Linked DNA regions of Homo sapiens. The protein of the gene in region 1 interacts with the protein of each later gene in a pairwise test. Each region holds a gene or a part of one and is shown in the gene's direction. Other genes may lie near its edges.

The links.
Region 2: the proteins of EIF2AK2 (region 1) and NLRP3 interact in binary tests that used the Homo sapiens proteins (3 or more experiments, as listed by UniProt).

Annotation. Positions count from the first base shown.
Region 1 is NC_000002.12:37,093,928-37,110,829, reverse strand, and holds the end of EIF2AK2 (interferon-induced, double-stranded RNA-activated protein kinase), read left to right. Parts: intron 1-1,534; coding exon 1,535-1,636; intron 1,637-3,302; coding exon 3,303-3,356; intron 3,357-3,434; coding exon 3,435-3,557; 3' UTR 3,558-11,620; downstream 11,621-16,902. Other genes in the region: GPATCH11 (G patch domain-containing protein 11), read right to left, coding at 14,567-14,622, 15,312-15,393, 16,635-16,748.
Region 2 is NC_000001.11:247,426,555-247,443,268, forward strand, and holds part of NLRP3 (NACHT, LRR and PYD domains-containing protein 3), read left to right. Parts: intron 1-3,030; coding exon 3,031-3,201; intron 3,202-7,548; coding exon 7,549-7,719; intron 7,720-9,415; coding exon 9,416-9,586; intron 9,587-12,726; exon of another isoform or gene 12,727-12,979; intron 12,980-16,714. UniProt on the Homo sapiens protein: Sensor component of the NLRP3 inflammasome, which mediates inflammasome activation in response to defects in membrane integrity, leading to secretion of inflammatory cytokines IL1B and IL18 and pyroptosis.

The DNA of each region.
Region 1 (16,902 bases):
ATTTGTCTCATATATAGTCTCATTATTTGAATGTGATTTTTTTTTGGGTTGATTGCTTTTATTTTTTACCTTTTGGGTTGTTTATCCTATTTTAATTTCTGATTTGTAAATGCCCGTTAAAGATTATTTTGCTGACAATACAGCTTTCAAAATATCTCTACTATTTTGTCATCCAAGAATAGATATACTGAGCTATCTGATGGTTTGAGAGTCTAGAATGGAGAAGGCATGTACTTTTTCCTTTTGGGGAGCCAGTTGGCATAAAAAATATAGAACACAATAGGCCAGTGGCTCTCTTTAACTTCCTGCTGCTTTCAGTATCTCCTGCATCCTGTATTGCTGCCCTCACACTATTTGGTTAAAAACATTCATCATTGTACTTTACTTTTTATTATGTGTGTGTGGTTTTTTTTTCCATTTAAAAACCTTTTGTTGGCTGGGTGCAGTGGCTCATGCCTGTAATCCCAACACTTTGGGAGGCTGAGGTGGGCAGATCACCTCAGGTCAAGGGGTTTGAGACCAGCCTGGCCAAGATGTTGAAACTCCATCTCCACTAAAAAAACAAAAATACAGAAATACAAAACTACAAAAATGAGCCAGGCGTGGTGGCACGTGCCTGGAGTCCCAGCTACTCTGGAGGCTGAGGCAGGAGAACTGCTTGAACCTGGGAGGTGGGGGCTGCTGTGAGCCGAGACCACGCCACTGCATTCCAGCCTGGTGACAGCGGGACTCCGTCTCAAAAAAAAAAAAGGCAACATTTTGTTGAGGAACAATTTATACAGTATAAAATGCACAGATCTTAAGTGTATATTTTTTCGTTTTGACAAATGCATACACCTCTGTAACTTATAAGACTATAAAGATATAGAACATTTTGCTCCTTCAAGCTCCTTTCCAGTCAGTGCCTCCTCCCCACTGATCAGAAGAAACCAGCACTCTGAGTTCTATCACCATAGCTTAGTTCTTCCCGTTTTTGACCTTCATATGAATGGAATCATACAGTAGGTACTCTTTGTATTTAATTTCTTCATTCAAAATAATATCTTCTGGAAAAACTTTGTTGCTCATACCAGCAGAGAATTCCTTTTTATTGCTGAGTCGTAGTCCATTGTATGAATATGCCACAACATGTTTATCCATTCTTCTGTTGTGGTCCTTTGAGTTGTTTCCAGTTATGGAATATTGTGAATAAATACGCTATGAACAGTTGCAATGCAAGCCGCCTACTGGGTGCTATTTTAACTGCTTTACCTGCTGCATCTCACTCTCACAATCAAACTCTGTGGTTGATACTGTTGTTATCCTTGTTTTATAACTGAGATTATTCCCATGTTGATCGTTAATTTACACAGAGGATTCAGCTATTCGGCGGTACAGATTTGAACCTAGGCAGTCAGACTCCACAGATTTTGCTAATAAATAGACATTGTTTTGTGGTGTAAGATGTTTTGGTCAAATAACTTTTTTGGGCTTTAGAAGGCTGGATATTTATGTAAGGAGCATAACAAAGGTAAATCTATTTTGGTCTCTTTAGATTTCTTCGCAAGACTATGGAAAGGAAGTGGACCTCTACGCTTTGGGGCTAATTCTTGCTGAACTTCTTCATGTATGTGACACTGCTTTTGAAACATCAAAGGTAAAATTATCTCAAAGAAAGAATTAAACAAGAAAAATTACTGACTACCACCTTCAGAGTGCTGCTGCAGACAGTTCTTGCCCTCACGTGAGGATGGGCTTGAGCATATTAGTATCTGACTGCAAATGAAATATGAATTTTCTGTCTTTCAAGGTTTGGCAGAGACCAAACACTTTCTTAAAGACCAAAAACTTTGATCTTCCCTGGAAGGTAGTACATCTCATAAGACTTGTAAGACTTGTCAGTCAGTAACATTTTATTGATTGACTGCTTTGTGTAAGACACTGTGCTAAGTGCTGTAAGGGTTGCAAAAATAAACAAGCCTTGGCTGGGCGCGGTGGCTCACCCCTGTAATCCCAGCTTTGAGAGGCCAAGGCAGGCAGATCACTTGAAGTCAGGTGTTCGAGACCAGCCTGGCCAACGTGGTGAAATCTCATCTCTACTAAAAATACAAAAATTAGCTGGGTGTGGTGGTGCACACCTGTAATCCCAACTACTCAGGGGGCTGAGGCAGGAGAATCGCTTGAACCTGGGAGGCGGAGGTTGCAGTGAGCCAAGATCACACCACTGCACTCCAGCCTGGGTGACAGAGTGACATTCCATCTCTAAATAAATAAATGAATAAAGCCTTGTTCTCAAGGAGCTTATTTTCTAAAAGGGAAGATAATATAAGAGAATGCCATAAGCATTTTAGGAGAAGGCATGAAGTCTGTGGAAGCAGCTGGGAGGGAGATCTTTCCAGCTGTAGGGACTTAGGTTTCATGGAGACATCTAAGCTGGGCTCTGAAGGATCTGTTGGCTTCTAATAGTCCAAAACAGAAAAGTTGATTCTAGCATGGAGGCGGGAATGTACAGAGTGTATTTGGGGACAGCAGGCAGTGTAAGTTGTATTGGAGTATATAAGTTACAAGGAAGTAGTGGTTGGTGAGGCTAGAAAGATAGGTTGGGCTAACTTGAGGAAAAAATGTGGACCTTCTTGCTTAGACAGTGGGGAGTCACTAAAGGCAGTAGGCAAGTGGATATCCTACTCTTTTTTTTTTTTTTTTTGAGATAGAGTTTCACTTTTATTGCCCAGGCTGGAGTGCAATGGCGCGATCTTGGCTCACTGTAACTTCTGCCTCCCAGGTTCAAGCAATTCTCCTGCCTCAGCCTCCCAAGTAACTGGGACTACAGGCGTGCACCACCATGCCTGGTTAATTTTTTTGTATTTAGTAGAGATGGGGTTTCACCATGTTGGTCAGGCTGGTCTCGAACTCCTGACCTCTGGCAATCCACCCGCCTCGGCCTCCCAGAGTGTTGGGATTACAGGTGTGAGCCACTGCACCCAGCTGGATATCCTACTCTTAAGCTCAGGAAAGGGAACTTTCCTGGAGTCAATAACCTTATCCTCTGTAAAACAGTTAGAAGTACCTATCACTTAGGGTTCCAAAATGCATGAAGGGAGATTGTAAAGATGATGCACTTAACACTTCATGTCGTAATGCAAGGATGGTTATTAGATTGGGGGTAGTGTAGGAGAGAGGGAATCCTGCTTGCTTCTTGGCTAAAGAGACTTTCCCAAAAAATCTGGAAATATCCTACATTTCAGGTATTCCTCAGCCTTTAGTTCTGTCTTTCCTCCCAAGTAAATAATTTCCTAATATACACCTATCATTTTTTTTTCCAGTTTTTCACAGACCTACGGGATGGCATCATCTCAGATATATTTGATAAAAAAGAAGTAAGCACTTGAAAATCATCAGAATTTTATTTATTTCAATGTTTTATTTCTTACTATTGACTCTCACTGTCATTGCAGAAAACTCTTCTACAGAAATTACTCTCAAAGAAACCTGAGGATCGACCTAACACATCTGAAATACTAAGGACCTTGACTGTGTGGAAGAAAAGCCCAGAGAAAAATGAACGACACACATGTTAGAGCCCTTCTGAAAAAGTATCCTGCTTCTGATATGCAGTTTTCCTTAAATTATCTAAAATCTGCTAGGGAATATCAATAGATATTTACCTTTTATTTTAATGTTTCCTTTAATTTTTTACTATTTTTACTAATCTTTCTGCAGAAACAGAAAGGTTTTCTTCTTTTTGCTTCAAAAACATTCTTACATTTTACTTTTTCCTGGCTCATCTCTTTATTCTTTTTTTTTTTTTAAAGACAGAGTCTCGCTCTGTTGCCCAGGCTGGAGTGCAATGACACAGTCTTGGCTCACTGCAACTTCTGCCTCTTGGGTTCAAGTGATTCTCCTGCCTCAGCCTCCTGAGTAGCTGGATTACAGGCATGTGCCACCCACCCAACTAATTTTTGTGTTTTTAATAAAGACAGGGTTTCACCATGTTGGCCAGGCTGGTCTCAAACTCCTGACCTCAAGTAATCCACCTGCCTCGGCCTCCCAAAGTGCTGGGATTACAGGGATGAGCCACCGCGCCCAGCCTCATCTCTTTGTTCTAAAGATGGAAAAACCACCCCCAAATTTTCTTTTTATACTATTAATGAATCAATCAATTCATATCTATTTATTAAATTTCTACCGCTTTTAGGCCAAAAAAATGTAAGATCGTTCTCTGCCTCACATAGCTTACAAGCCAGCTGGAGAAATATGGTACTCATTAAAAAAAAAAAAAAAAGTGATGTACAACCACTTCGGAAAACAATTTGGCATTATCTAGTAAAGTTGAATCCATGTATACCCACATAGCTATCAATTCTATTCCTACATACGTGCTTACAAGAATGTCCATAAAACCCTGTTTATAATAGCCAAAAGAACAGGGAACAACCATAATGCACATCAAAAGAAGAATGGATTAAAAAAATTATATTCACACACAGGAGTACTATATAGTATTGAAAACAATTGAAGTACAGCTAAATGTAATAACGTAACACAATACAACTCTCAGAAACATAATGTTAAGCGAACAAAGCAGGTTTTCAGAAAATATATGCAGAATAATTCCATTTATATAAAGTTCCAGAGCATGCAAAACTAAATCATTTTGTATAAAAAACCCAACAAATGTGATGAGACAATAATGGGAAGGAAGGGAATGAGAAATATTAAATTCTGGATGGTGGTTATCTTTGAGGGAGGGGAATGATGTGATTGGGGAAATGGACTTTCAAAGGTAATGGTAACTTCCTTAAGCTGGATGGTAGGTCCACTAGTGTTTGCTGCATAGTTATACCTTTTATCTTAAATACATTTTGTATCTATTGTAACAACCACTTTAAAGACAACCGTGCTGTAAGGCAGTAGCTAAAAACAGAAAATAGTCCATCGGGAAGGGTAAGATGGCTTTCTGCTGAGCACAGGGCTAGAAGTGACAGCCCAGTGGGCCTTCCAACTATATGCCAGGGTGTTAGATGAGTAGAGAGGAGACCACCCAGGAAGTCTGGACAAGGGGTCTGGCATGAGCTCTGGAGAAGATATATTTGAGGAACATGGGGTATGCTAGTTTGTTGTCCTGAATTGCTGTAGAGAAGATAATTTAAATTGCATCTTAGAAGACGACCCTGAGGGTGAATTTCAACTTAGGGCAATTGTTTTAGTTTGTTTCTTATTGGTTTAAATGGATACTTGAAGCTGGATAATTTATAAGGAAAAGAGATTTATATGACTTACAGTTCTGCAGGCTGTACAAGAAACATGGCACCAGCATCTGCTTCTTCCCCGGCTGCTTCCACTCATGGTGGAAGGTGAAGGGGAGCCGGATGTGCAGAGATCATATGGCAAGAGAGGAAGCAAGAGAGCGAGGGAGAAGGTGCCAGGCTCTTTTTAAATAACCGGCTCTTGAGGGAACTAATAGATTGAGAACTCCTTGCTTCTCCTCCCCAGCACACCCCACCCCCAGGGACGGCATTAATGTATTCATGAGGGGTCTTCCCCCATGACCCAAACACCTCCCATCAGGCCCCACCTCCAACACTGGGATCAAATTTCAACATGAGATTTTGGGGGACAAACATGCAAACTATAGCAGCAACCAGCTACCATTCTAAAACTGCCATATGATTTTAGGATTTTTAAAAAGGGCCAAATTTAGGTTAAGCAAAAAGTGAAAATACAGTAAGAGAAAATAGTTTTATAAAGGCTTTAAAAAGTGTTCATAAAGAGCAGTTCATAGATTTTTCACGTAACGTTCATCAATAGATGCTAAAACTATTGGATGAAAAGCTATTGTGGAATAGGATCTTCTACAAGGATTTAAATATAATCCTACAGAAGAGGTATCAATTATACAGGGGAAAATGTACCTTTACAATGGTCACCACAATAACCAAGTGATTCAATTTAGCATCACCCAAGGTGGAACACCCTAACATTATGCCCCTCCTGATGTGACTTAAGAATTTTACCTATTTAGTTTTCTTGCACAAAGTGTTAAACTGGAATTTAATCATGAGGAAATTATTAGACAAATCCTGAATGTAGTCATTCTATAAGATGATTGACTTGGGCTTCTCAAAAAGTCAGTGTCATGAAAAAAAAAAAAAGGGGAGAGACTTGTAAGATACAATGACCAAATGCAATGTTTGAATCTTTATTGTATTCTGGATATTTAAAAAGACAAAAGCTGGACGCAGTAGCTAATGCCTGTTATCCCAGCATTTTTGGGAGGTCAAAAGGGGAGGATGGCTTGAGCATAGGATTTTGAGACTAGCCTGGGCAACACAGTGAGTTCTCATCTCTACAAAAAATCAGAAAATTAGCTGGGCATGGTAGTGTGCATCTGTGGTCCCAGCTACTTGGGGGGGTGAGGTGGGAGGATCACTTGAGCCTAGGAGGTCAAGGCCGCAGTGAGCCATGATCATGTTACTGCATTCCAGCCTGGGTGACAGAGTGAGATCATATCTAAATAATAATAATAATAAAAGAAAGCAACAACCCAGCAAACAGCTATAAAGATATCTTCGGGACAATTGAGAACATTTGAATATAGACTGCATATTAGATAACAATGCCAAATAACTGTTTTCTCAGGTGTGATAATAGTATATGTAGAAAATGTCTTTTTGTTTTGTTTTATTTTGTTTTTGTTTGTTTGTTTGTTTTGAGACAGAGTCTCACTGTGTCGCCCAGGCTGGAGTGCAGTGGCACGATCTCGGCTCACTGCAACCTCTGCCTCCCAGGTTCAAGTGATTCTCCTGCCTCTGCTTCCTGAGTAGCTGGGATTACAGGTATCTGCCACCACTCCAGGTTAATTTTTTCTATTTTTAGTAGAGACGGAATTTCACCATGTTGACCCAGCTGGTTTTGAACTCCTGACCTCAGGTGATTCACTTGCCTTGGCCTCCCAAAGTGTTGAGATTACAGGCATGAGTCACTGCACCCAGCCAAAAATGTTTTTTTAGGCAATGCATGCACAAACATTTAGAGGCCAAGTGTGTCATGATGTCTGCAACTTTCAATGTTCAGCAAAAATCAACATGGAGAGAGAAAGAGGGCACACATGTGGCAAAATATTAGCCATTGTACAATTGGTAAATCTAGATGACAGTACACAGGTGTTTGTTGTATTATTCTTTGAACTTTTCTGTAGATTTGGAAATGTTCTGCGTAGAGAGAAATCTTTTTTTAAAAAAACAATATCTGGTTTTGATTAATGAGGCTATATTCAAAAGAAACACTAAATGATGTGGCCAGTTAGTGAGAATGTAGCCTTATCTTTACTGACCTCATTTTAATATTCCTACTCTGGCTGGGCATGGTGGCTCACGCCTATAATCCCAGCACTCTGGGAGGCCGAGACGGGTGGATCACCTGAGGTCAGGGGTTCGAGACCAGCCTGGCCAACATGGTGAAACCCCATCTCTACTAAAAATACAAAAATTAGCTGGGTGTGGTGGTAGGCGCCTGTAATCCCAGCTACTCGGGAGTCCGTGGCAGGAGAATCGCTTGAACCCAGGAGGTGGAGGTTGCAGTGAGCTGAGATCACGCCATTGCACTCCAGCCTGGGTGACAAGAGCAAAACTCAGTCTCAAAAAAAAAAAAGAAAAAAAAAGATATATATATTCCTACTCTTATTAAATGAATATAGCATTTCTTAGCAACTTCTTTTGATTTGTGAGTATATATTTTCTTGGCCTCAAAATTAAAGTAAAAAGTATCCTCTTACTCAGAGGAGGACAGGGGCAAGAGCCTGGGACCTTATTTGCTAATTAAAATGCACACACACACACACACACACAGAAATTTTGAGAGCCATTTTAATATAATTGCCTCCCTAGAAACATACCTTTTAGGGAATTTTTATCACTAAACCACATGTTATTTAAATACGTACATGTTTAACATAAATACATACATAAAATTCACATGCATACTTAACACTTATGTTAAATATATTCAATGTATATACATATGTACACAATATATGCATATATACATGTGGGTATGTGGTATGTGTGCATGTGTGTGTATGGCCAGCTACATAATTTGTGGGACTAAGGGCAAAATGAAACTGTACGGCCCTCGTTCAAAAATTAGGTGTGGGGTGCTTCTAAGCACAGTCTTGTGCAACTGCACAGGTTGCATGTCCATGAAGCCATCCTGTGTGTGTGCACATATGTGTATGAATATGTATTTTATATAATACATATATATGCATGTATGTATCTGAGAAGAAATGTTTAAAAGGCTACATACAAGCTTTTCCAGGTCTCTACTATCTGTTAACTAACTAGAGACATAACTCACAATATGCAGTCCCCACTGAGTGTTCACCATAATTTGAGATTCTTGGCATGTTAACTTTTCATTATGGAATATTGAATAATTTCAATATTATTCATACATTTCTTTATGTTCAAACATACACAAAAATAGAATAATGAAACTCTACCCATCACCCAGCTGCAACAAATATCAATACTTTACCGTTCTTAATACATCTAACCCCTTACTTTTTGTTTGTTTCTTTTGGTGAAGTATTTAATTGTAATTTTTTTTTTAAGAGACAGGATCTCACTCTGTCACCCAGGCCAGAGTACAGTGGTACGATCACAGCTCCTTGTAACCTCGAACTCCTAGGCTCAAGTGATCCTCCTGCCTCAGCCGCTTGAATAGCTGGGACTACATGCATACACCAACACACCCAACTAATTTTTAAATTTTTTGTAGAAATATGGTCTTGCTGTGTTTCCCAGGCTGGTCTCAAACTCCTGGCCTTGAGAGATTCTCCTGCCTTGGTCTTCCAAACTGCTGGGATTACAATATCCGGCCCTACTGGAATATTTTAAAGTAAATCTCAGGTGTTACATCATTGCACTTGTAAGTACTTTAAAATGTATCTCTAGCAGATAAATCTTTTTAACAAAACCACAGCATCATTGTCACACTCAAAAAATTGACAAGATTTCCTTAATTATCATATAATAGTCTGTATTGTTTCTATCTCAAAAATACAGTTTTCTTGGTTGTTGAAATCTAGATCCAACATTGCATTTGGTTGATGTGTCTCCTTTACTCTGTAAAATTTACCCCTGCGTTTTAGTTCTTTTCGGCTTTTATTTGTCCTGTGGAATTTCCTCCACTCAGGATTTGACTGAGAGTATCCCCAGAGTGTCCAGTTAGACCTAGAAGCTGGATTTGATCCTGGTTCATTTATTTTCCCCCAAGAATACTCCATAGGTGATGCTATACACTTTCTCTTACATCATTTCAGGAGGAACATGATGTCTGATTGTTCCACTTTCAGTGATTTTAATATTGATCAATGAGTTCTGGTGGTACCAACTACTACAAAGTTTCTCATCAATCTTTCACCTGATGGTTTTAGCAGCTATTGATAATTGTTGCCTGGATCCATTATTTCATTTCAGGGGTTGTAAAATAGTGATTTTCTGGTTCTATCAAACCTCTTGCATTTATCATCTATGATTCTTCTTTAAGGAACTTTCTCTAAATCTGAATGGGAAAGATGCGATAAATATTTATCAAATTTTAGAGTGAGTTAGTGCCCTAGCAACCTCCACAGTTGACAAATGAGTATTTCTTTAAAGCAAGGTATGGCCCAACCAATACTTTGAAACTAGCATGTTTAGAATAGAGCAGGAGGAAACTATATTTGAAAGGTCAGAAGTGGAAAGACTAAGAGGGCCTGAACAATAAGAGGACAGAACCAAGAGGAGTTGGCAACTAATTGGATGTGGGGATTAAGGAAAGGTAAGCATCAAAGATTACCTCCAAGTTTGTTAGAAGGTTAGTAGCAGGATTCTGATGCCATTCAAGTAAATACAAGTCTCAGTCAGATGAACCCCAAGAGCCACATGTATTTGAGGGGTACTTTGTCTCACACTTTTACCTGTTACATGGTTTTCAGTAATTTAGAATTTAAGCCAGTAGTGGGGCGACTGTACATCTATCGACATGGTGAGGTAGAGCATGTTTGGGAGGAAAGACGTTGAATCCCATTTGGTGACAGTGAGCTTGAGGTGCTGCCAGAACACTGCACTGAAGATAGGAGGAGACTGTAGGAAATACAAGATAGGAAAGGTCTCCACTGAAATGTTAACTCTTTCTCTCTAAACGGCCATCCAGGCCTCAATGTCTGCAGTTTCTGATCTGTGATTATGACTTATCCAAATCTTACATTTCTTAAAAATAGTCATAGATGAAGGGAATCACAGTTGATAGTTATATGGTGACATTATTGGCTTAAATTCTAAATAACTAGAAACTGTATAATAGGCAAAACTGTGAGGCAAATAAAATGCTTCTCAAATCTGTGTGGCTCTTATGGGGTTAATTTGATTTGGACCTGTATTAATTTCTTATGGCTGCTATAACTAACAAATTACCACAAACTTGGTGGTTTAAAACAACACACATTTATTCTCTTTCTGTTCTGGAGGCCAGAAGTCTAAAATGAGATTCACTGGGCTGCAGTTCACTGGGCAAGGCCATGCTCCTCTGGAGGCTTCCATGATGCATCCCATATTCAGTGTTTCCCGAGTAAGCCCCACCCATGCAGGTCTGCAGTTTTACCTCAACAGGCTTTTGCACTCAGTGGCTCTCTCCTGTGGTTTCTATCTGAAATTCTCTTCATTTTTTTTTTAATAACTGCTTTATTGAGATATAATTCACATGCCATACAATTCACCTATACAGTATACAATTCAGTAGTGTTTACTATATTCAGAGTTGTGCAACTATCATTTTTCTCACCCCCAAAAGAAACCCTATGCCCGTTAGTATTCACTCTGTTTTCTCACAACTCTAGGTAACCACTAATCTACTCTCCATCTCTATAGATTTGCCCATGCTAGACATTTCATATAAATGGAATCATACATGTGGTCTTTTTCACTGAGTATATTTTCAAGGTGCATCCCAGCTGTGGCATGAATCAGCATCTCATTCCTTTTTATTGCCAAATAATATTCTATCATATGGATATGTCGCATTTTATGTATCCATTCATCAGCTGATGGACATTTGGGTTGTTTGTACTTTTTGGCTACCATGAATAATGCTACTATGAACTTTTGTGTACAAATCTTATGTGGACTTGTTTTCATTTCTCTTGGATGTATATTCCTAGGAGAATGGCTGGATTATACAGTAACTCTTTCCTCATAACTTTGCATATCAAAATTATATCCATCTTTCAGAACCCAAATTCAGTGTTATTTCCAAAGTGTTCCAACATCTCCCACTCAAAATGAATCTTCTCCCTAGTACTCCCATTGTTTAGTACCTAATTGTTCTTACCAGTTTGTCTTAGAGCTCAGTCATTCCTACACAGCACTTTTCTTCATTATACTGCTAATTTCATTACACTGTAAGAGTGGGGACAAGCTGTTCTTCTTGTATACCAGAAAGTAGTGAGTGCACTGCTGTGAAGAAAGCAGGAACTCAAAAGTTAAGAATTTTGAATGAGCCTATAAAATGTGTCTAATAAATAATAATGTTCATTTTCAAATCTCAACAATTAAATGTTTAACAAATAACACTTGAAATAAATGTTTATTAGAAAAACCAATTTGGTATGTTAAAGTATTTATTTTGAATTTCAGAAACTACAGAATTCTGGATTTTTAATTAAGAAAATTAGACATTTTAGAATTTCTAGATAGGACTTTGAAAATAAACATGGCACAATATACACAAAAGTAAATGACAACATGACATTAAATTTTACATTGTTTTGCAGTTTCAAATTTCGTATTAATGTTCTACAACAAATTTTAAAATTCTTTTCAGTGTTTTGCTTCCCTTGGTGTTCATTATTGCCTATTTATAAAGTCATAAAAGGCCTAAAAATAACTTGTTACTCATATTGAAAGTCTGATTTTTTTTTTATTCCCTTAAGATGGAGGTCTCTCACTATGTTGCCCAGGCTGGTTTCAAACTTCTGGGCTCAAAGGATTCCCCATCTCAGCCCCCTGAGTAGCTGGGACCAAAGGCATGCACCACTGCACCCGGCTGAAAGCCTGTATTTTTATCTTTCGATGGACAACAGAGGGATATCTCCCACTCTCTAAGCCGGTCTAGTTCTAGTACTAGGCCTGTAAATGTAGACCACAATCCTGGTGAAGTCATGGGTTCCATCAGTGTTATCCTGGCATTCTCAGCATAATTGTCATGAACATATTTAAAATATTTTAGGCCACTGAGCAGGTGTGGGTTGTCCTCATAGTAACAGGAGAAAGGGAAGCCAGTTCCTGTCTAACTCCATTCCATCTGAAATTATCCATTTGGCTTTGGGATTTGACTGAATGTTGGTATGTTGGCTGAAATGACACCACAGTATTGACTGGAATTGCAAGGGTAAAATGTACTCCTCTGTTTTATTAATAGCTCTCTCTCTCTCTCTCTCTCTATATATATATATATATACATACATATATATATATAATTTTTTTTTTTGAGACAGGGTCTTGCTCTGTCACCCAGGCTGGAGTGCAGCAGCATGATCTCAGCTCACTGCAATATCTGCCTCCCAGGTTCAAGCAATTCTCATGCCTCCGCCTTCTGAGTAGCTGGGATTACAGGCGAATGCCACCACGCCCAGCTAATTTTTGTATTTTTAGTAGAGATGGGGTTTCACCATGTTGGCCAGGTTGGTCTTGAACTCCTGGCTTCAAGTGATCTGCCTGCCTTGGCGTCCTAAAGTGCTGGGATTACAGGAGTGAACCACTGCGCTCAGCCAATTTTATAATTTTTTTAAAAACAAAAAAGTAAATATTAAACAATAGCATCCAAACATATAAATATTATATATATACACATATTTACATTCATAAAAATAATGATTAGTTTTCTGGATGAAGAACTGAGGCCCAGAAGTTAACTAGATTAGTGGCTCAAGGTAGGCTGCATTTTAGAATCAAGGGCAGTGATGCCCAAGTCACAGTGACTAATGGCATCAGAATCTCTTGGGATGGGACCCTTTTATTACTATTTTGTAAAGCTCCCCAAGTTAAACTTGAAAAGTGAATTAGGTCATATTAGGTCAGAGATTAATACAAATTGTACTACTGATTATCTTACCCTAGCAAGTGTAGGTTAATTTTTACAATCTTCTTATGTATGCTGTTTCTAATAAAAGGGGTTGTTCTCTTGCTCAATCTAACTAACAGGTGAGCTATAAAATCACACAGGTGATCACAACTCTATCCAAAGAATGGTGGTGCTCCATCCTTAACCTCAGTACTAGTTCTTATCCTCAGGTGCTTATCACTCATTCTTGGGACTTCAAAATAAATATATAGATATCCAGGAACCACCTTAGCCAAGACAAATCAAAATCAATCACTAGGAGAGACACCTGAGCATATGAACTTTTAAAAAGGTTCATGATTTTGATGCCTCACCCTGGATGGAGCTCTCTCATAGTATGCCACACGGTATGTCCTTAGCTGTATTCATTAATATTACAGGGAAGCAGATTTCAGTTTAAGAGAAAACAATGAAAACAATTCAGAGCTACCCAGTAATGGAATGGTTTTAAAGCAGTGAGTTCTCTGTGGCTGGAAGAATAAAAGCAAAGGTTGAACTATCACTTGCTGGGAATGCTATCAAGGGGTTTCCAAATTCAGTAAGTACTTGCATCACACAATATTTAAATTTCCTCACAATTAAGTTTCTCTAGCCAAAACTTCCAACAGATCACATATAATGGATATAGACATTGTCATGAAAACTCATGATTTTACCAGAAATTATCACAGTTAAATGGATTAGAATTTAGTAGTACTGGTCGAACATTGCCTCTGACATCAGCCTTATTGAGGGGAATACTTTTCCCCTCCTCTTCATGCTTGGATGGAGGGAAGGGAACTTCTCCTTGCTCCTTCAAAGCAAGAAGTGTAGGAAAAAGCTCTCTGAACCCTCATTCATTCCTTCCCAAGAGAGAACTGTCTTATCCCATGGGTGATACAAGAAGGAACTGAGCATGTGTGGTCCAGCCCCTGGTGGTTTCCCTGACCTTGAAAGCTAACTGGTCTCAGAATGCAAAGATGGGCTCTGCCCCAACAAGGCAGAGACCCGCTGTTCTCTCCAATCAGGGAGAAATATTACAGTCTCTGACTGGAGAAAAAGTCAACCTTCTTCTCTGTATCAGTTTATTCACTGATAAAGTGGATATTTTTCTCTTCCTCTGACTCCCATTTCTTATTTCTCAATTTGTTCCAAAGTGAAGAGGGGAATAAGAAGTTACCTGTTGGTGTCCTTAAACCCCTCACGTATCACAATATAGCAATAAATTGTAACTGTCCATCTCTGTGATACTTGTGTTCTGAAATGCCATTGCATTATTTTTTTCAAGTCAATGAACATTCATATTCTAAAGTACAAAAAGAACAAAACATTATATAAAGTCCCCCTTTCTTTACTGGCATAAAAAATTTGAGATTTCCAACTGCTAAATTGTCTATCCCTAGGAAGTAATAACATTTTTCAAGTTTCCACTTTATTGGGAATAATCTTAGTCATGATCTGCAGAAGTTGGTCCTGGACAATTTGAAGATAGGTCTTCTTTATCTGTAAGTTATGTGAGGGAAATGAAAGATTAATACAACTTCTACAGTAAACTAGAAAATTATTTCAACATAACATGCATTTTTTGATCTGATGTTTTCTACTTATTCTGCTAAACCAGAAAAGATAAAAACAACAATAACCAAAAATGCTTCACTCTCAAGTACAAAGTTCTTAAATACAAGTTAGCAAAGGTAGCTTGGGCAAAGGTGTTAGAAGGAGAAACACTTGGCTCTGTAAGACACCTGGTAAGTGTAAACCATTTCTATCCTTACAATGGAAAAAAAAAGGAATGGATTTCAACATATCTGATTTTTACGGTTTAGGGGCAATATTCTATCTAAGTATATAAAAATTAGCTCTAAAATTTAATATAAATTCTTTCAAATATCTGTAGCCAAAGAAAGAATCTTTAAAAATAAAGCACAAAACATTCATCATTCTCAGGTTATTCTAAAATTGTTTCTTTTGAAACAAAACACTGAAAAATTCACTTCCACACATTCAGTTTCTGAAAAGTTAAATGCAATTTTAATAAAGCCTCAATTATTTCTATATCCACTATTTAAGAAATTGGTCCCATACTGCCATTTGAATGGAATAAGAAATTTCCATTGTCAGTGGGAAATGACTTTAACTAAAAATTGGAGAGCATTCATCTATTTTTAAAAAGCATAAAGTAATTTTCTTACCTTCATAGGCTGTTCCACACCAAATACAATATAGATGTTCTTCTCTTAAATAACTAGTCAATATTTGTAATTTTTCCAGTACCTATAGGATACAAGCACATTATTAATACTTTACATTGAACAGAACCTTGGTTTTCTGGCTCTTAGATCGTGCCGAATTAGCTCAAGGCTGTAAATATTCTGCTATACTCTGGAATAGTTATTAGAAATGTCAAGGACAGAACTGATATATTCGAATGTGTTACAGTTCATTAGCCACCCTGAGATTTCCACAAGTCTGCCAGACACAATGGAGACTGCTTGTTAACATTGAGAAAATAGTTTTTGGGTGGCCTTATTAAAATTGGCATCCTTTAAAGGCTTTTTCTACTTTCAAGGCATTTACCTCCCCCAGATAAGGTGAAGGTGAATATGGCCTCCTTTTGCCATAAAAGTTCTCATCAATGGTCTCCCAATTAAGTGGAATATAGGTTTTTCAAATTGTGAATGTTTTCCACAAAATTATTATACTCAAGTAAGCATACGAGTGTGTTTTCCTTTCTTGAATAATCTCCATTTCCTTTTTTTTTTTTTTTTGTGAGACAGGGTCTCGGTCTATCACCTAGGCTGGAGTGCAGTGGCGTGATCTTGGCTCACCGCAACCTCTGCCTCCCGGGCTCACGTGATCCTCCTACCTCAGCCTCCTGAGTAGCTAGGATTATTGGGTGCCCCACACCTGGCTAATTTTTGTATTTTTAGTAGAGACTAAAATACACTACCATGTTGGCCAGGCTGGTCTTAAACTCCTGACCTCAAGTGATCCACCAGTTTTGGTCTCCCAAAGTGTTTGGATTACAGGTGTGAGCCACCATGCCCGGCCTCCATTTTCTTTTGATTGTGTTTTTTTGTTGTTTATAAGTAGGAGAAAAAAGTACACATTAGAATGACTTGTAGAAGTTTTGCAGGAAATAAGGTATAAATTAAAATAATTTACATTTGTTGCTAATTCATCATCCAAACTGAAGCTGAGATGAGAGGACAAATGGAAGCTAAAGGGAAAAATTATATGTAAGTTTTGATTTGGGGTTAGTAAAGTAATCCTGCAATGCAGTACCTCTCAACCAGGGGTTATTTTTCCCCTCGGGGACATTTAGCAATGTCTGGAGAGGGTTTTGGTTGTCATAAGCAAAAGTGCAACTGGTATCTGGTGGGCAGGGGCCAGAGATGCTGCTAAACATCTTGCAATGCACAGGACAGCTCTCCACAACAACGGATTACCACAACTCAAAGTGCTAATGTTGCCAAGGCTGAGACACCCTATGAAGGAAATGGTGCAAAGCATACGCTTAAATCTTCACTCTTATATTCATCTTCATCCTGTTCTTTTTCTTCTTCATCTTCTTCAGTCTCCTCTTCAAGCCTCAACCAGTACCATGCTTCCCTGGGAACCTGAATATTCTGAAAATGCAGAAGTAGTCTCAATTAAACATACTAAACATAAGAGCATGACAAATATGTTCATGTCAACATGAATTCATTCTTTCAATACGTATTCACTGAGTGTGGCTTTAAGAGTAAAAACACTGGCCGGGCACGGTGGCTCACGCCTGCA
Region 2 (16,714 bases), on another chromosome or scaffold:
TCAGCTTTCTTGATCCGTTGACATTACCATGACCAGGACCACCTTCCTAGTCATGGTTTGGCCATGAAGGACTGACTGCCCACAGGGCCGCAGTGGTGGTGAAGACCCAGGTCCTGGTCACAGGGACTTGAGGTCTGGCTGTGGGACAGTCCGGAAACAAGTGCAGATGTCGGGGAGGGGGTCATGGGCTCTGACAAGGAAACTTGCAGAGTATCCAAAGCACAAGGGGACGAACCTGTTCACCAGCGGGGCACGGGTGGGTGTCCCCGCTCAGCCAGCTTCCGGAGGATGGGCAGTGAGAGAGTGAGAGAAGGAAAGGGGCAGCCAGGCTGGGGGCTTACGGTGTTGAGAGAGAGGGCAGGTGTGGGAAAGCAGGGTACGGTTTCTACGGCAGCAAACAGTTCCGAGTGACTGGAAAAAAGACAGTTGTCTTCATTCATCAGGTTGCCATAACAAAACACTGCAGGCTGGTTGGCTTATAAGCAAAAGGAAGGTTCACCTTACGGTTCTGGAGGCTGGGAAGTCCATGATCCAGGCTCTGGCAGATCTGGTGTTTGGTGAGGGCCTGTTCCCTGGTCGATGGTGCCTTCTCACTGTGTCCTTACATGGTGAAGAGGCAAGGCAGCTCTCTGGGGTCCCTTTCCTAAGGACAGCAATCCCACTCCTGAGGGCTCCACCCTCATAACTTAACCACACCTCAAAGGCCCCATCGCCTGATACGTCATGTTGAGGGTTAGGATTTCAGCGTATGGATTTTGGGGCACACAAACATTCAGACCATAGAAATGGGAGAAGAAGAGTAAGACAGAGAGAAAAGTAGGCAGAACTACTCATTAAGAGTGAGGTGGAAGGTGGAGAGGGCAGGGAGACCTTATGAAGATCACACATCTGTGAGGAAGGTTTGCACACTCTCACTGAAGCCCCGGTAGGAGGCTCAGCACCCATTTCTCTAGATAGCACCTTCCTTCCTCTGAGGACAGATTCTGACTGGAGCCCTGGTAGGGGGCTCAGCACCCATCCCTCTAGATGGCACCTGCCTTACTCTGAGGACAGACTCTCACTGAAGCCCCGGTAGGAGGCTCAGCACCCATTTCTCTAGATAGCACCTTCCTTCCTCTGAGGACAGACTCTGATTGGAGCCCTGGCAGGGGGCTCAGCACCCATTTCTCTAGATAGCACCTTCCTTCCTCTGAGGACAGACTCTCACTGAAGCCCCGGTAGGAGGCTCAGCACCCATTTCTCTAGATAGCACCTTCCTTCCTCTGAGGACAGACTCTGATTGGAGCCCTGGCAGGGGGCTCAGCACCCATCCCTCTAGATGGCACCTGCCTTACTCTGAGGACAGACTCTCACTGAAGCCCCGGTAGGAGGCTCAGCAACCATTTCTCTAGATAGCACCTTCCTTCCTCTGAGGACAGACTCTGATTGGAGCCCTGGCAGGGGGCTCAGCACCCATTTCTCTAGATAGCACCTTCCTTCCTCTGAGGACAGACTCTCACTGAAGCCCCGGTAGGAGGCTCAGCACCCATTTCTCTAGATAGCACCTTCCTTCCTCAGGACAGACTCTGACTGGAACCCTGGTAGGGGGCTCAGCACCCATCCCTCTAGATGGCACCTGCCTTACTCTGAGGACAGACTCTGACGGGAGCCCTGGTAGGGGGCTCAGCACCCATCCCTCTAGATGGCACCTGCCTTACTCTGAGGACAGACTCTGACTGGAGCCCTGGTAGGGGGCTCAGCACCCATCTTTCTAGATGGCAGCTGCCTTACTCTGAGGGCAGGAGCTTGCTTTGTATGTTCCAGTCCCTTCTGAGAACCAGAAGCCTGAGCATCTATTAGAAATGCAGGATTGTGGACCCAATCTTAGACCTAGAGAGCTAGACTTTGCATTTGAATGAGAGCTACAGGTGATTCAAAGGTGACTGCATGTGTGGGTGCAGTGGCTCTTGCCTGTAATCCTAGGTTTTGGGAGGCCAAGATGGGGGGATTGCTTGAAGCCAGGAATTCAAGTCCTACCTGAGCAGCAAAGTGAGAGCACCTCTCTACAGAAAAACAAAAGCAAAAATGTGACTGCATGTTGGAGCCACCTGGCTTTTTTTAAATAAAAAAGATCCATATAGCTGGACACAGTGACTCGTGCCTGTAACCTCAGCTACTCGGGAGGCTGAGGCAAGAGGATTGCTTGAGCCCAGGAGTTTGAGGCTGCAGTGAGCTATGATCATGGCACTGCATTCCAGCTTGGGTTTCATCTGAAAAAAAATTTAAAAAATTCATCTAGTTCCACCTCAGAGCTTCTGATTTTATTTCCATGGATGTGGCCTGGGCTTGCGATTTTCTTTTTCTTTTTTTTTTTTTTGAGATGAAGTCTTGCTCTGTTGCCCAGGCTGGAGTGCTGTGGCATGATCTTGGCTCACTGCAACTTCCACCTCCCAGGTTCAAGTGATTCTCCTGCCTCAGCCTCCCTAATAGCTGGGATGACAGGCTCGTGCCACCACACCCAATTAATTTTTGTATTTTTAGTAGAGAGAGGGTTTCACCATGTTGGCCAGGCTGATCTTGAACTCCTGACCTCAGGTGATCTGCCCGCCTCGGCCTCCCAAAGTGCTGGGATTACAGGTGTGAGCCACCATGCCCAGCCTGGCCTGAGGATTTTTGTGAGCACTCCTGATGCTGTTGTGTAGCCAGGAGTGAGGACTGCCCTCTGATCACCCAGCACAGAACGTTCAGGGCCATGTTGGGACAGTGGACTGGTAAGGGCGAGAGGAGGACACTGGGGAGCAGGCTGTAGGGTGCCACAGTCCGCCACAGTCACAGGCTCATGCTCTCCGTCCGAGAGGAGGCAGAACTGCTTTTACCAAGGCTCATCCAGCCCTCTTCATTTCTCTGGGAACAATTTTTGGTTTCGTGACCCATTTCTTAATCCCCGGAAGGCATTTCTCTGAACTGGTGCCAGGCACCCCGGCCCCCAGCTCCAGTTAGTTATTATTCGAGGCTGATTTCTTTTCTGTCTGTCTTCCTTCTAATTCCTAGATTGGTGAACAGCCACCTCACTTCCAGTTTTTGCCGGGGCCTCTTTTCAGTTCTGAGCACCAGCCAGAGTCTAACTGAATTGGACCTCAGTGACAATTCTCTGGGGGACCCAGGGATGAGAGTGTTGTGTGAAACGCTCCAGCATCCTGGCTGTAACATTCGGAGATTGTGGTGAGTCCCCGTGCATGTGATCTGTGTGAGTGCAAGTTCATATGAGAGAGAGAGAGAGAAACAGACTGGAGAAAGATCTTCAGGACCAGGTTGCTGGTGTGGTTTCTTTCTTTTCTTTTTCTTTTTTTCTTTTTTTGAGGCAGAGTTTTGCTCTTATTGCCCAGGCTGGAGTGCAATGCCGTGACCTCGGCTCACTGCAATCTCTGCCTCCTGGGTTCAAGTGATTCTCCTGCCTCAGCCTCCTGAGTAGCTGGGATTACAGGCACCCACCACCATACCCAGCTAATTTTTTGTATTTTTAGTAGAGATGGGGTTTCATCATGTTGTCCAGGCTAGTCTCGAAGTCCTGACCTCAGGTGATCCGCCCGCCTCGGCCTCCCAAAATGCTGGGATTACAGGCATGAGCCACCGCACCCGGCCGGTGGTGTGGTTTCTGCTGTAACAAAGTGCCACAGACTGAATGGCTTCAACAACAAAAATTCATTTTCTTGCAGTTCTGAGGCCGAAAGTCTAAGATCAAGGTGTCAGCAGGGTTGGTTTCTTCTGAGGCCGCCCTCCTTGGTTTGTAGATGCCCCCTTCTCCCTGTGTACTGATGCCATCTTGCCTTGGGGGGAAGAGTGGCCTAGTCTCCTCTTCTTACAGGGACAGCAGTCCTGATGGATTAGGCACAGTCAGGCATGACTACACAAGACCTAATGTTAATCTAGTCACTCCTTTAAAGACCCCATTTCCCAAAACAGCCACATTATGAGGTCTTGAGGATTAGGGCTTCAACATGTAAATTTTTGGGGGGGCACAGTTCAGCCCAGAACAAGTGAGAAGGTAGAATGGGTTGGAGGCCAGCTGGGGAAGTTTTGTGTGGGGAAGAATGAATGAGGAACTAAAAAAAAAGTCATTTCTTGAAACAACCATGATGCTCGATATATTCCATTTCCTCATGGGCCATGTTCATAGATGAGAGTTGGAGAATTTGCCATTTACAACAATGGCAACCTCACCTAAAAACTATGAAAATACTTTTTTTTTTTTTCTTTGAGACAGGACCTCTCTCTGTCACCCAGGCTGGAGTGTGTGATCACAGCTTACTGCAGCCTCGACCTCCCAGGCTCAAGCAATCCTCCCACCTCAGCTCCCCCGAGTAGCTGGGACTACAGGCATGCACCACCATGCTGGCTAATTTTTGTATTTTTTTTGTAGAGATGTGGTCTCATCACGTTGCCCAGCCTGGTCAGAATGCTTTGTATGGGTTGAAATGTCACAGGGAATCTCCTGTGACTTTATTAATAATGTGCTTGCTCACACCTGTAGTCCCAGCTACTCGGGAGGCTGAGGCAGGAGAACTGTGTGTACCCGGGAGGCGGAGATGGCAGTGAGCCGAGATCGTGCCATTGCACTCCAGCCTGGGTGACAGAGCGAGATTCCATTTCAAAATAATAATAATAATAATAATAATAAAAAATGTGCTTGCTTTCTCCCACACCATGAATCAGATTCACACGCCCCACCGCGCTGGTGCCTGGGCCGCCTCACTAGCTCTGTTTCATTCCCTGCTCTGTGGACGCATGCAGGCGTCTGCATTTTTGAGGAGCTGCACAGCAAGTGTTAAAGTCCGCCACTCTAGGACATTTTGCTACCTCCCTCTCCGGCTCAACACACTCACCTTGTCACCAGTCTTATCAATTTTTCCTCCTACCCGAGCTGTTTTCCACTTTTCCTCGTCCTCACCCCACCAGCCCAGGTCCAGCAACTGTCACCACTTGCCTGGACACGCAGTGACCTCCTAGACCATCAGCTCCCCGGGGATGGGGTTTGCGTTTGTTTGTCTTGCTGTCATCTTTGCCACGCCTGGACAGACATCTTAGTACCCATCAGTGGTCAAAAGCACGCACTGAATGAATGTTGGCTCTTTGGTCTCCCTGTGTCTGCCTTTTTCCCTCACCCGACCATTCTCTGCACAAAAGTAAGATGGTCCTTTAGAAAATTCTGATTCGATTGTGCTGTTCGGTGGCTTAAATGCTTTCTGTCTGCTCTGCTCTTTATTTTTTACTTTATGTATTTATTTTTGTAGATGTAGGGGGCGCAAGAGCAGCTTTGTTTCATGGATATGTTACTGCACAGTGGTAGTGTCTGGGCTTTTACTGTAACTACCCCTTTTTTTTTGAGATGGACTCTCGCCGTGTTGCCCAGGCTGGAGTACAGTGGAGTGATCTCGGCTCACTGCAACATCCACCTCCTGGGTTCAAGCAATTCTTCGAGTAGTTGGGATTACAGGCATGGGCCACCACGCCCAGCTGATTTTTGTATTTTTAGTAGGGACAAGGTTTCACCGTATTGGCTAGGCTGGTCTCAAACTCCTGACCTCGTGATCCACCCGCCTCGGCCTCCCAAAGTGCTGGGATTACAGGCGTGAGCCACCGTGCCCGGCCTTAGTGTAACTCTTACCCAAATAGTGAACATTGTACCCAATAAATAATTTTCCAGCCCTCACCTGGCTCCCACCCTCCCACCCTTCTGAGGCTCTAGTGTCTATCATTCCATGCTCTATGGATGTTACCCTTTGTTTAGCTCCCACTTGTAAGTGAGAACGTGTGGTATTTGACTCTGTTTCTGAGTTGTTTCACTTAAGGTAATGGCCTCCAGTTCCATCTGTGTGGCTTCAAAGATGTGACTTCATTCTTTTCTATGGCTGAGCAGTATTCCATTATGTATATAGATCACACTCTTCATCTTTGCTCTTTTGGTAAATTTCAAATCGTAGTGCCATGGAGACTGGTTGTTTGGGACATTTAACCTTATTTCTCCAACTTCATGCCCAAATTCTCTCCCCACTGCCATTGCCCCTGTATGATTCTGGAGAGGCAGACACAAACAGGGAAGGGTAGGGGACAGTGAGATGCTTCGCAGAGAAGTAGAGATCCATTTGTCCATTTGCTTGAAGTTGGTGTAAGGATAGGGACAGAAAGGAAGGTGGTCTAACAGGCTCCAGGACCTATGAACTATTGCCCTGGAAAGAAGCTAGAATGTTGTTCTTGCCCCCATGACAGGGATAAAGTATAGTTTTTGTTGCTGGTGGTGGTGGTGACGGTGGTAGTGATGTGCGTGTGTGTTTGTGTGCATGTGTGTGACGGGGAAACTAATCAAGAATCAGAGCTGCAGCGGGATGTGGAATCCCAGCACTTTGAGAGGCTGAGGTGGGCAGATCACCTGAGCCCAGGAGTTCAAAACCAGCCTGAGCAAGCTGGTGAGACCTTGTCTTTAGAAGATAATAATAATAATAAAAATAAAATATAAATAAAATAAAATGGCTAAGCATGGTAGCACATGCCTGTATTTGCAGCCACTTGGGAGGCTGAGGCAGGTGGATCCCTTGAGCCCAGGAGTTCGAGGTGGCAGTGAGCTATGATCTCGCCAGTGCACTCCAGCCTGTGCAACAAAGTGAGACCCTGTCTTTAAAAAAAGAAAAGAAAAGAAAAGAAAAAGAATCAGAGCTGCTTTTCCTTTCAATATAGATGGAGGGCTGGGATGAAATCGTCAAACACAATGGGGTGACAATGTTGGTGAAGACAAGAAATAGCTGAGTGCAGCACTGGCGAGGGCAGTGCCGACTGCGGGCACGTCAATGGTTAGGAACACGAGGGAAGGAGGTGGGTGCACAGGCCCACACCGCCCGCTTCACTTACAAACCAGGAGCGCACCATTCACATGTCTGGGGGGTGATCTCAATGCACCCGGCACTGTTTACGGCCGGGAGTTCACTGACAGGTGATCCCTCTGCTGTGACTGGGGAGACTGGGGGCTGACCTCCCAATGTGCCTTGTGCTGTATTCCGGAGCTCTCTGGTCAGGTGTATTCTGATGCTTTCTCTATTCCAGAGCTCTCTGGTCAGGTGTGTCCTGATGCTTTCTCTATTCCAGAGCTCTCTGGTCAGGTGTGTCCTGATGCTTTCTCTATTCCGGAGCTCTCTGGTCAGGTGTGTCCTGATGCTTTCTCTATTCCGGAGCTCTCTGGTCAGGTGTGTCCTGATGCATTCTCTATTCCAGAGCTCTCTGGTCAGGTGTGTCCTGATGCTTTCTCTATTCCAGAGCTCTCTTGTCAGGTGTGTCCTGATGCTTTCTCTATTCTGGAGCTCTCTGGTCAGATGTGTTCTGATGCTTTCTCTATTCCGGAGCTCTCTGGTCAGGTGTGTTCTGATGCTTTCTGTATTCCGGAGCTCTCTGATCAGATGTGTTCTGATGCTTTCTCTATTCCGGAGCTTCCTGATCAGGTGTGTCCTGATGCTTCCTCTGTTCTGGAGCTCTCTGGTCAGGTGTGTTCTGATGCTTTCTGCCTCTGTTCTTGGCATGAAGGTTGGGGCGCTGTGGCCTCTCGCATGAGTGCTGCTTCGACATCTCCTTGGTCCTCAGCAGCAACCAGAAGCTGGTGGAGCTGGACCTGAGTGACAACGCCCTCGGTGACTTCGGAATCAGACTTCTGTGTGTGGGACTGAAGCACCTGTTGTGCAATCTGAAGAAGCTCTGGTGAGTCGAGCCCGTTCCCCTAAGGAAGTTCTGCCAGCGAGGCGTGCTGCGCACTCTGGCTTCAGTGAGGCCCGGTGGGCTGGGGTTTGAGTGAGAATGGCCTTGGCGGCTCGGGTGACTGCGTGTGCTTGTCTTGGGGTGTCTAGCATTGCGGTCAGTGAGTGTTTGTCGTGGGGAAAGCCACACACTCAACCCTGACAAGGAGCATAAATAATAACAAAAAGAAGATGTCTGCCTTTAGGGTGCCTACTGCCTAGCTGACAAAAAGAAAAAATCAGTGTAATGCATTGCTTTAGAGGAGTTTTAGAACTTCATGACAAGCCCTGGGTCCTCATATTGTATAAGAAAAATGGTGCTAAAGCAATGCAGACCCTCGATGTTGTATGCAGCCCTTCCCTGAGTGCTTCTGGGAGACTTGCATTTTGAAGGAGAGAAAAAACCACTTAAAAATGGAAGGGCCATTTCTCACCCATTAGGATGGCTATTATCAAACAAAAGCAAGAAAACTAGAAAACAACAAGTATTGGTGTGGGTGCGGAGAAATGGAAGCCATTGTGTGTTGCTGGTGGGAATGTAAATGATGCAGCCACTATGGAAAACAGCACAGCAATTCCTAAAAAATAAATACAGAATTACTACTGGAGCCAGCATTTCCACTGCTGGGTATATCTGCAAAAGAGTTCAAAGCAGGAACTCAGCCAGGAGCGGTGGCTCACACCTGTAATCCCAGCATTTTGGGAGGCTGAGGCAGGTGGATCACTGGAGGTCGGGAGTTCGAGACTAGCCTGGCCATCATAGTAAAACCTTGTCTCTACTAAAAATACAAAAATTAGCCAGGCATGGTGGTGCATGCCTGTAATCCCAGTTACTCGGGGTGGAGGCAAGAGAATCTTTTGAACCTGGGAGGCGGGGGTTGCAGTGAGTCAAGATCCCGTCACTGTACTCCCGCCTGGGTGACAGAGGAAGCATTAAAAAAAACAGAAGGCAGGAACTCAAACATGTTATTTGTACATCTATGTCCATAGCAACACTATTAGAAATAGCCAAAAGGTGGAAATAACCAAACGTCCTTCAACGGATGAAGGGTGTTGAAAAGTGCTATATATGTACATTCAGCTTTAAAAAGAATTCTAGTACACACTACAACATGGATGAGCCTCGGGGACATTATGCTAAGTAAGATAAGCTAGACTCGAAAGGGCAAATACTCTGATTGTCCTTATAGGAGGTGTCTAGAACAGACAGATTCATAGAGACAGGAAGAAACGTGGTTGCAGGCAATGGGAGGGCGGAGAGTGGGAAGACATTGTTTAATGGTTATGGAGTTTCAGTTCTGCAAGATGAAAGGAGTTCTGGAGATGGTGGTGGTGATGGTTGCACAACAATGTGAAGTGCTTAAGGCCATTAATTGTGCACTTAAAAATGGTTAAAATGGTAAATTTTATTTTACACGTATTTTACCACAATAAAGCTGAATGTAGGGAGCTGGGAAGATGTAGTATTGGTGGGAGCTTGGAGAATGCTTACTTGTTATTCCACCAAATGGAAAAGGAAATCAGAAGTGTACATAGAGCTTGTGTCCACTCCCTTTCCATGTGTAAACTGGAGTAGAGGCAGTGGCAGGTACGGGTGCTTCCTTGTCCATGGTGGAGCGTGGGTGAGAGACATGACTGACATTCTGCCATCTCTATGGAAGGTTGGTCAGCTGCTGCCTCACATCAGCATGTTGTCAGGATCTTGCATCAGTATTGAGCACCAGCCATTCCCTGACCAGACTCTATGTGGGGGAGAATGCCTTGGGAGACTCAGGAGTCGCAATTTTATGTGAAAAAGCCAAGAATCCACAGTGTAACCTGCAGAAACTGGGGTAAGTCTTCATGGGTGTCTTACCAGAAAAGTAACTTCTTTTCAGAGGTGAATTATTTGGAAAATGTGGATGGGGGTTACTTTGGTCAGGCAGAGCTGAAGGTAGAGTAAGGAGGTAAAAACATCAGAAATGCTTTGAAGGACTGGAGGCATATAATGTATACTGCTGCTAATAAGATAATTTATGCTAATTTATGATTATAGAACTAGAGTTTCTTAGTGTTGGAAGAAACCTTAGAGATGGTGCAGCCCAATTGCCTGTTGAGGGAAAAACTTGCTTCCAAGACACTCACATGAATAGTCACCCATTTTATGTGTGCATGCTTGCAAGCATGCAAGTTATCGCATAGTGCATGCAGCCTCTACACTAGGAAAGAGCTCTCACCCTGCAGCCTCTACACTAGGAGAGGACTCTTACACTGCAGCCTCTATATCCTCAACAGTGTCATGGCTCAGCACCTTCACCTATGTAGCCATGCTCTCCCAGGTACACAGGCTGGTTTGTTAGTGTCTGTCTTTGAAATGTGGTGCCCAGACCTGATGATGCATGGTGGATGTTTTACCTCCTGTTGCAGAGAACTATGGTTTCACTGGTGGAATCTCTGATTTCCTTGTTTTTTTTGGCAGTTACATAAGCCTTTTGATTCATGTTGGAATTCTGCAGTAAACAGTAGTAGGGAATACCCACTAATAATCATGCACTTTCCCTGTACCACTTTCCTGTATCACTTTCCCTGTATCACCTGCTCTTTCATGTTCTTACATGGATTTTCTCAGTTGGCTTCAGAAAGATGCTATAGGGTAGGGTATCTGTGTCTCCAATTTAAAGAGGAGAAAATAAAATTCAGGGAGCCTCATAACTTTGTCCAAGGACACTCAGAGAGAAGGTAGTGGAACTCAGTGTAGACAAACGTCTGTGACCTCCCAAGCCACTGCCTTAATTCCCAGTGCATTGCCTTAGGAGATGTTGCTAATGGGCTCTCTACAGGGCTTCTTCATCTGGCTCTCAGCTTAAGGGTGGGACCTCCAATTTAGCTTTGCTAAACCTCATCTTACCTGTCTTTTGACCCATTGACTAGGCAGTTTTGAATCTTCATTCTGACAATAATATCTACAAATACAATAAGCAAATTGGATAGGTCTTCATTCATTCACATTATTAATATATATACCAGCCAGATCAGCATTCAAGACAAAATTTGGCAGGAAAGGTCTTCCCAGAGGAGTAATCCACTAATCCATAATTAACAACCAACCTCTGTTCACAAAGCTCTGATACTTCCTTGGACCTCTCCCATCAGCCAATCCTCAGATGTGACCATATCTCTTTCTATGAAGTCTTCCTGCAGTGCCTTCATTTCCTCGCCTTAGGGTATTACCCTTCCTTAGCAAATCGCCTTAGAATATTACTCTTCCTTGGCAATTTGACTTCTGCTTCTCTAAGTTTGTTCAACAGACATGATTTTGTCCCTTCATTTTGCAGGCCCTCTGGGGGCTCTGTGGTGGGCACTGACAGCAGCAGTGAGTAAAACAGACCAAAATCCTGTTTTCACAACCGTTCTTTTAGGGAAGTGATAACAGATAATAGACATGCTAAACAATATACCCTGTGTATAAGAGCTATAAGAAAAACTGGAGTGACGGCGAGGGGTGCTTCTCTGCTCACGTTTGGCGAGTGCCTCTCCGAGCGGGTGACATTGGAGCAGGTGCTCAGTGAAGCGTGGGATGGGCTGTGAAGGAGCCGGAAGAGCCCTCCAGGCAAAGCAGATGGAACCGAAGAGGCCCAGGCGTAGGCACTCAGGTGACTCTCAGTGATCCTGGTTCCAAATTCCACATGACAAACAAGCCAATTACAAATGTGCCTGATGCATCTGTAATATGCTCTATGTAGTTACTATTGTCAATACCTAACCTGGTAGAGCTGCTGTAATAAAGTATCACAAACAGAGCGGCCTAAACAACAAGAGTTTATTGCCTCTCAGTTCAGGAGGCCAAAGTCTGAGACTGAGGCATCAGCAGGCTGGGTCCTTATAGGTCGTACAGGTCCTTCCCAGTCCTTACTTTAGTTGACATCTGCTGCCTTTAATTCATTTCACTCTTCCTCTTTGGAAGCCTTCTTCGCTCTTATTTTTAGGTCACTACTTAGTCTTTCCTGCTAATGTTATAGCTTCCCCCTCCCTGGATCCTGCATTGGCTTCTCTTCCTGTGGTCTGGGGATTTCACGACTGGTTTAGTTGTGTTTTTTTTTTTTTTTTTTTTTTTGAGTTGGAGTCTTACTCTGTCACCCAGGCTAAAATGCAGTGGCGCAATCTTGGCTCACTGCAACCTCTGCCTCCCGGGTTCCAACAATTCTTCTGCCTCAGCCTTCTGAGTAGCAGGGACTACAGGTGTGCACTGCCATGCCTGGCTAATTTTTGTATTTTTAGTAGATACGGGGTTTCACCATGTTTGCCAGGCTGGTCTCGAATTTCTGACCTCAGGTGATCTGCCTGCCTTGGCCTCCCAAAGTGTTGGGATTACAGGCGTGAGCCACACACCCGCCTGGTTTACCTTTTTTGTTGTTGTTGTTACTAAATATTTCTAAACTCCCTGAGAATTCTCATATACCTCTCAATTTCAACAACAGTAGGTCTCAAACCCAGATATCATTCACAAACTTTTTATTAGAAAAGTAACACATGCTTGGTGTAAACATATCATAGTACAGACAAAGTGGAAAGTGAAAGCTCCTTCTCAGCCCTCTTCTGAGAGAGCCATTTACAATAGTCTGATGAACAACCATCCAGACTTTTTTTAATACAATAGATTGTTATATAATCCATTCATCTGTCCATCCATCCATCCATCCATCATCCATCCCTCTATTTTCCATCCGTCAATCCATCCATCCATCCATCCATCCATCCATCCATCCATCCATCAATCCATCCAAGGGAGTATCAGAGCTTTGTGAACATATATTGGTTGCTAATTATGGACAAATGGATTTCCTGTATATGCTGATCTGGGTGGTATTTATATCAGTAATGTGAATGAAGACCTATGTGATTTTCATGTTGCATTTGTAATACATTGTTATGTAGTATTTTAAATGCCTAGTCTGTTAGAGCTACTGTAATAAAGTATCACAAACAGAGCAGCTTAAACAACAGAAATTTATTGTCCCTCAGTTCTGGAGGCCAGAAGTGTGAGATTAAGATGCTAGCAGGCTGGGTCCTTCTGAGGGCTGTGGGGAATCTGTTCATGCTTCTCTTTGGCTTCTGGTGGAATGTCATCTTGCTGACACATTTTGCCATTCCTTGACCTGTAGATGCCTCTGCCACACCATTGCCTTTATCTCTACGTGGTGTCTTCCCTGTGTCTGTGTGTGTCTTTCTCCATGTCCCAAGTTTCCCTGTGAAAGAACACAAGTCATGTTAGATTTGTAACGACCTGATCTTAACTAATTACATTTTCAGTAACCGTATCACCAAATAAGGTCACAATCTGAAGTACTGGGGCCTAGGACTTCCACATATAAAGTCTTAGAGGAAACAATTCAATCCATAACACCCTATCTATTGAAACTAGAACCATAATATAAATATTTTTCTGTGATATCCTTTTTTCATTTATCATGGATAAATTTCCATGCTGATTTGTGTAGATCTATCGATTGGGGCATAATATCCCATAGTGTGCTTTACCATAATTTATTTAATCAAATCATGCATTTTGGGATAACTGTTCTTTTCCACTATTACAAACAACTCTGCAAAAAGCACATTTGTATATATAGTTTTATGCATGTGTATTTGCTTTGAGATAGGTATCTATAAGTGGCATTAATCAGTCGAGACTTTTATGCATTTTATGTGTTAGGTACAGCCATACATGTGGCTGTGTGTTAGGTATAGCCTATGGGTTAGGCATAGCCTGTGTGTTAGGTATAGCCTATGGGTTAGGTATAGCCTACGTGTTAGGTATAGCCTATGTGTTAGGTATAGCCTATGTGTTAGGTATAGCTACATTTTTTTCTCTCGAACTTTGGGTCCTCATCTCTGGCTGCATATTGTGTACTGCCTGTCTCAATACTGCTCAAGGGTCACACATGCTGAGCATTTGCAACATTGGTTTAATTATCATACCCCACCTTCCACCCCCGTTCTCTGACCTGCTCCTGCCCTCTTCCTCCTGCCTCATTGAATAGTGGGGCTTTCCAGGAGGCTGCTGAGTGAGTAAACGGGGGACGGTCCTAAATGCTCTGCTTTCGGTTCCCTCTACCACTCATCACTACACCAGAGGGAACTTTTTAAGATGCAAATTTGAAAATATTGACCCTTTGTTCAAAAATCTTCAAAAGTTCTTCTCTGCAGTCAGAGTGACATCTTAGCTTGGCACACAAGGCTGTCCCTGATACTGCCCTCTCTCCTGCCATACCTTGCACTCCATTTTGAGTCATATTGGATGAGTTTTGTTTTGCTGTTTTAGAGATGGGGACTTGCTATGATGCTCAGGCTGAATTTGAATTCCTGGGTTCATCTACAGCCATACCACCCAGAGTGCCTGATCTCATCTGCACTCCTGGGCTCAAGCAATCCTCCCGTCTCAGCCGCCCAAGTAGCTGGGACTATAGGTGGACATCACTGTGCCCAGCTATGAATTAGTTTTGAAACATCTTGGTGGTTCTTTTAATCTTCCTTATTCTTGCTACTCTTTTCCTTTTGCCTGGAAGGTTACCCCCACTTTCCCACTTTCTACTATCCATCTAAGAAGCTCCTACTTATTTTTTAATTACTGTGATCCTCATTTTGTCCATTTAAAAGCAGGGATAAAACTAACATTCCCATCTTGAGGTTGTGATCATTCAATGAGATAACCCTGTTTAAAGTCGTCATCCATGTCAAGCACACAATAAATACTCAAAAAATGTTTGATCTTCTTCTTCAGATTCCTTCCTTCCTTCCTTCCTTCTTCCTCCTCCTCCTTTCTTTCTCTCTTTTTCTTTTTCTCTTTCTTTCTTTCTTTCTCTCTCTCTCTCTTTCTTTCTTTCTCTTTCTCCCTTCCCTTCCCCTCCCCCCCCCCTTTCCCTTTCCCCTTTCCTTTCCTTATTTTCCTTTCTTTTCTTTTCTTTTTTTAAGACAGGGTTTTGCTCTGTGGCTCAGACTGGAGTGCAGTGGTAGGATCATAGCTCACTGTAGCCTTGAACTCTCCTGGGCTCAAGCAATCTTCCTGCCTCAGCCTTCTGACTAGCTAGGACTACAGGTGTGTACTACCATGCCTGGGTAATGTTTAAAATGTTTAAAATTTTTTATGTAGAGACAGGGTCTTGCTATGTTGCCCAGGCTGGTCTCAAACTCCTGGCCTCAAGTGGTCCTCCCACCTTGGCCTCCCAAAGCACTGGGATTCAGTTTTCATTATGAGACAGTTTTGTGACATAGGCAGGTAGTTAATAAATAAAAATCCCCAACCAATTAACTTAATACAGTACATGGCAAGATATCCGTGCTTGGTAAATGTAGAGCTCAGTTAGGTGGATTGGTTGAAATCGAGATGTCAATCACATTCCTCTAATCCAAGGATTGGTTGGTGGGACATGGTTGTTTGATTCTTTAAACATTTTATTATGTGTTCAGTGTAACCGTTGCTTAATAGTTACCAGCATTTTCACAATTTGGATATGACGTTTTCTTAACAAAACTGCACCGTCTGTTGCAATTTCTACTACTACTGTGTAGTGCTCCCCAAACATCTGTTGAATAATCCATTCTACTCCTTTTTGGAAATAGTGGTAAAGCCTGCATAACTTTAATTACATAATTTAAAAAATATTTTCTCTTTTCCTCTTTGAAGACCATCCCCATTCTACTAGAATGTCCCTGGCCTTTGCCAGGAATGCTACTAATCCCTTCTGCATGTTAATTAACAACAACCCTCTGATAGAATTCTTACCGGGGATGAGAGCTTAGTAGAAGCCACTCAAAACTTGCTTTGTTTTTGTCTGTCTCTCTTGGGCTTCATTTGCCTATTAGTCTTACTTACTGTGTCTTTTCAGTTTGACTCTTCCTTAATTGGGAAGATAGAAACCAGTGGATGGATAATCACTTTTTCCTGCTGGTCATCTGTTCATGCTTTACTGTCTGAATACACTTTTTCTGTATTTCTATTTTTCCTGCCTCGTAGACACCAAAGAGCTTAAAAAACATGCCATTGCCAAGGACTCTGGCAGGAAGGAGGCAATCACCTGCGCTATTCCTGGCTTCATGGAATAGAAGCATCTGTGCTCCTAGGAATTACGCCACCAGTGATTTTAGAGCTCTTATGCTCTTCCTGGGTGATAGAATGGGCTTAATTTGACTCAAGAATAGTACATCAAAACTCTTAATTCCATCGAGATTGATGCATTTTTGGGGTTTTATGCTCTAAAAGGCCTTTTGCTGTGCAGAAGGAAGAGAGAGGTGGACAGAAAGGGCAGTGGGGAGAAGATGAGACTAAAAGGTGGAAAGTCCAGGTCTGGATCCCTCCCCACCACACACCTGCTCTGTGGCCTTGAGAGAAACATGTAATTTTTATAAGCCTTAGATTTCTAATATGTAAAATGTATGTAATAGTTTTAGCTGCACTCCTTCCTTGCCAGGTTGATATAATAATCAAATAAGACTGGTCTCTGGGTCAGGCACAGTGGCTCATGCCTGTAATCCCAGCACTTTGGGAGGCCAAGGTGGGTGGATTGTCTGAGCCCAGGAGTTTAAGACTGCAGTGAGCTGTGCACTTGGCCTGGGTGACTGAGCAAGAGCCTGGCTTTTTCTATTTATTTATTTATTTTTGAGACAGAGTCTCACTTTGTTGCCCAGGTTGAAGTGCAGTGGCAATCTCGGCTCACTGCAACCTCTGCCTCCCAGGTTCAAGCAATTCTCCTGCCTCAGCCTCCCAAGTAGCTGGGATTACAGGTGCCCACCACCACCCTAACTAATTTTTATATTTTTAGTAGAGATGGGCTTTCACCATGTTGGCCAGGCTGGTTTTGAACTCCTGACCTCGTGATCCACCCTCCCAAAGTGCTGGACCTCCCAAAGTGCTGGGATTACAGGCATAAGCCACTGCACCTGGCCTTATTTATTTATTTATTTAGGCAGGGTCTCACTCTGTC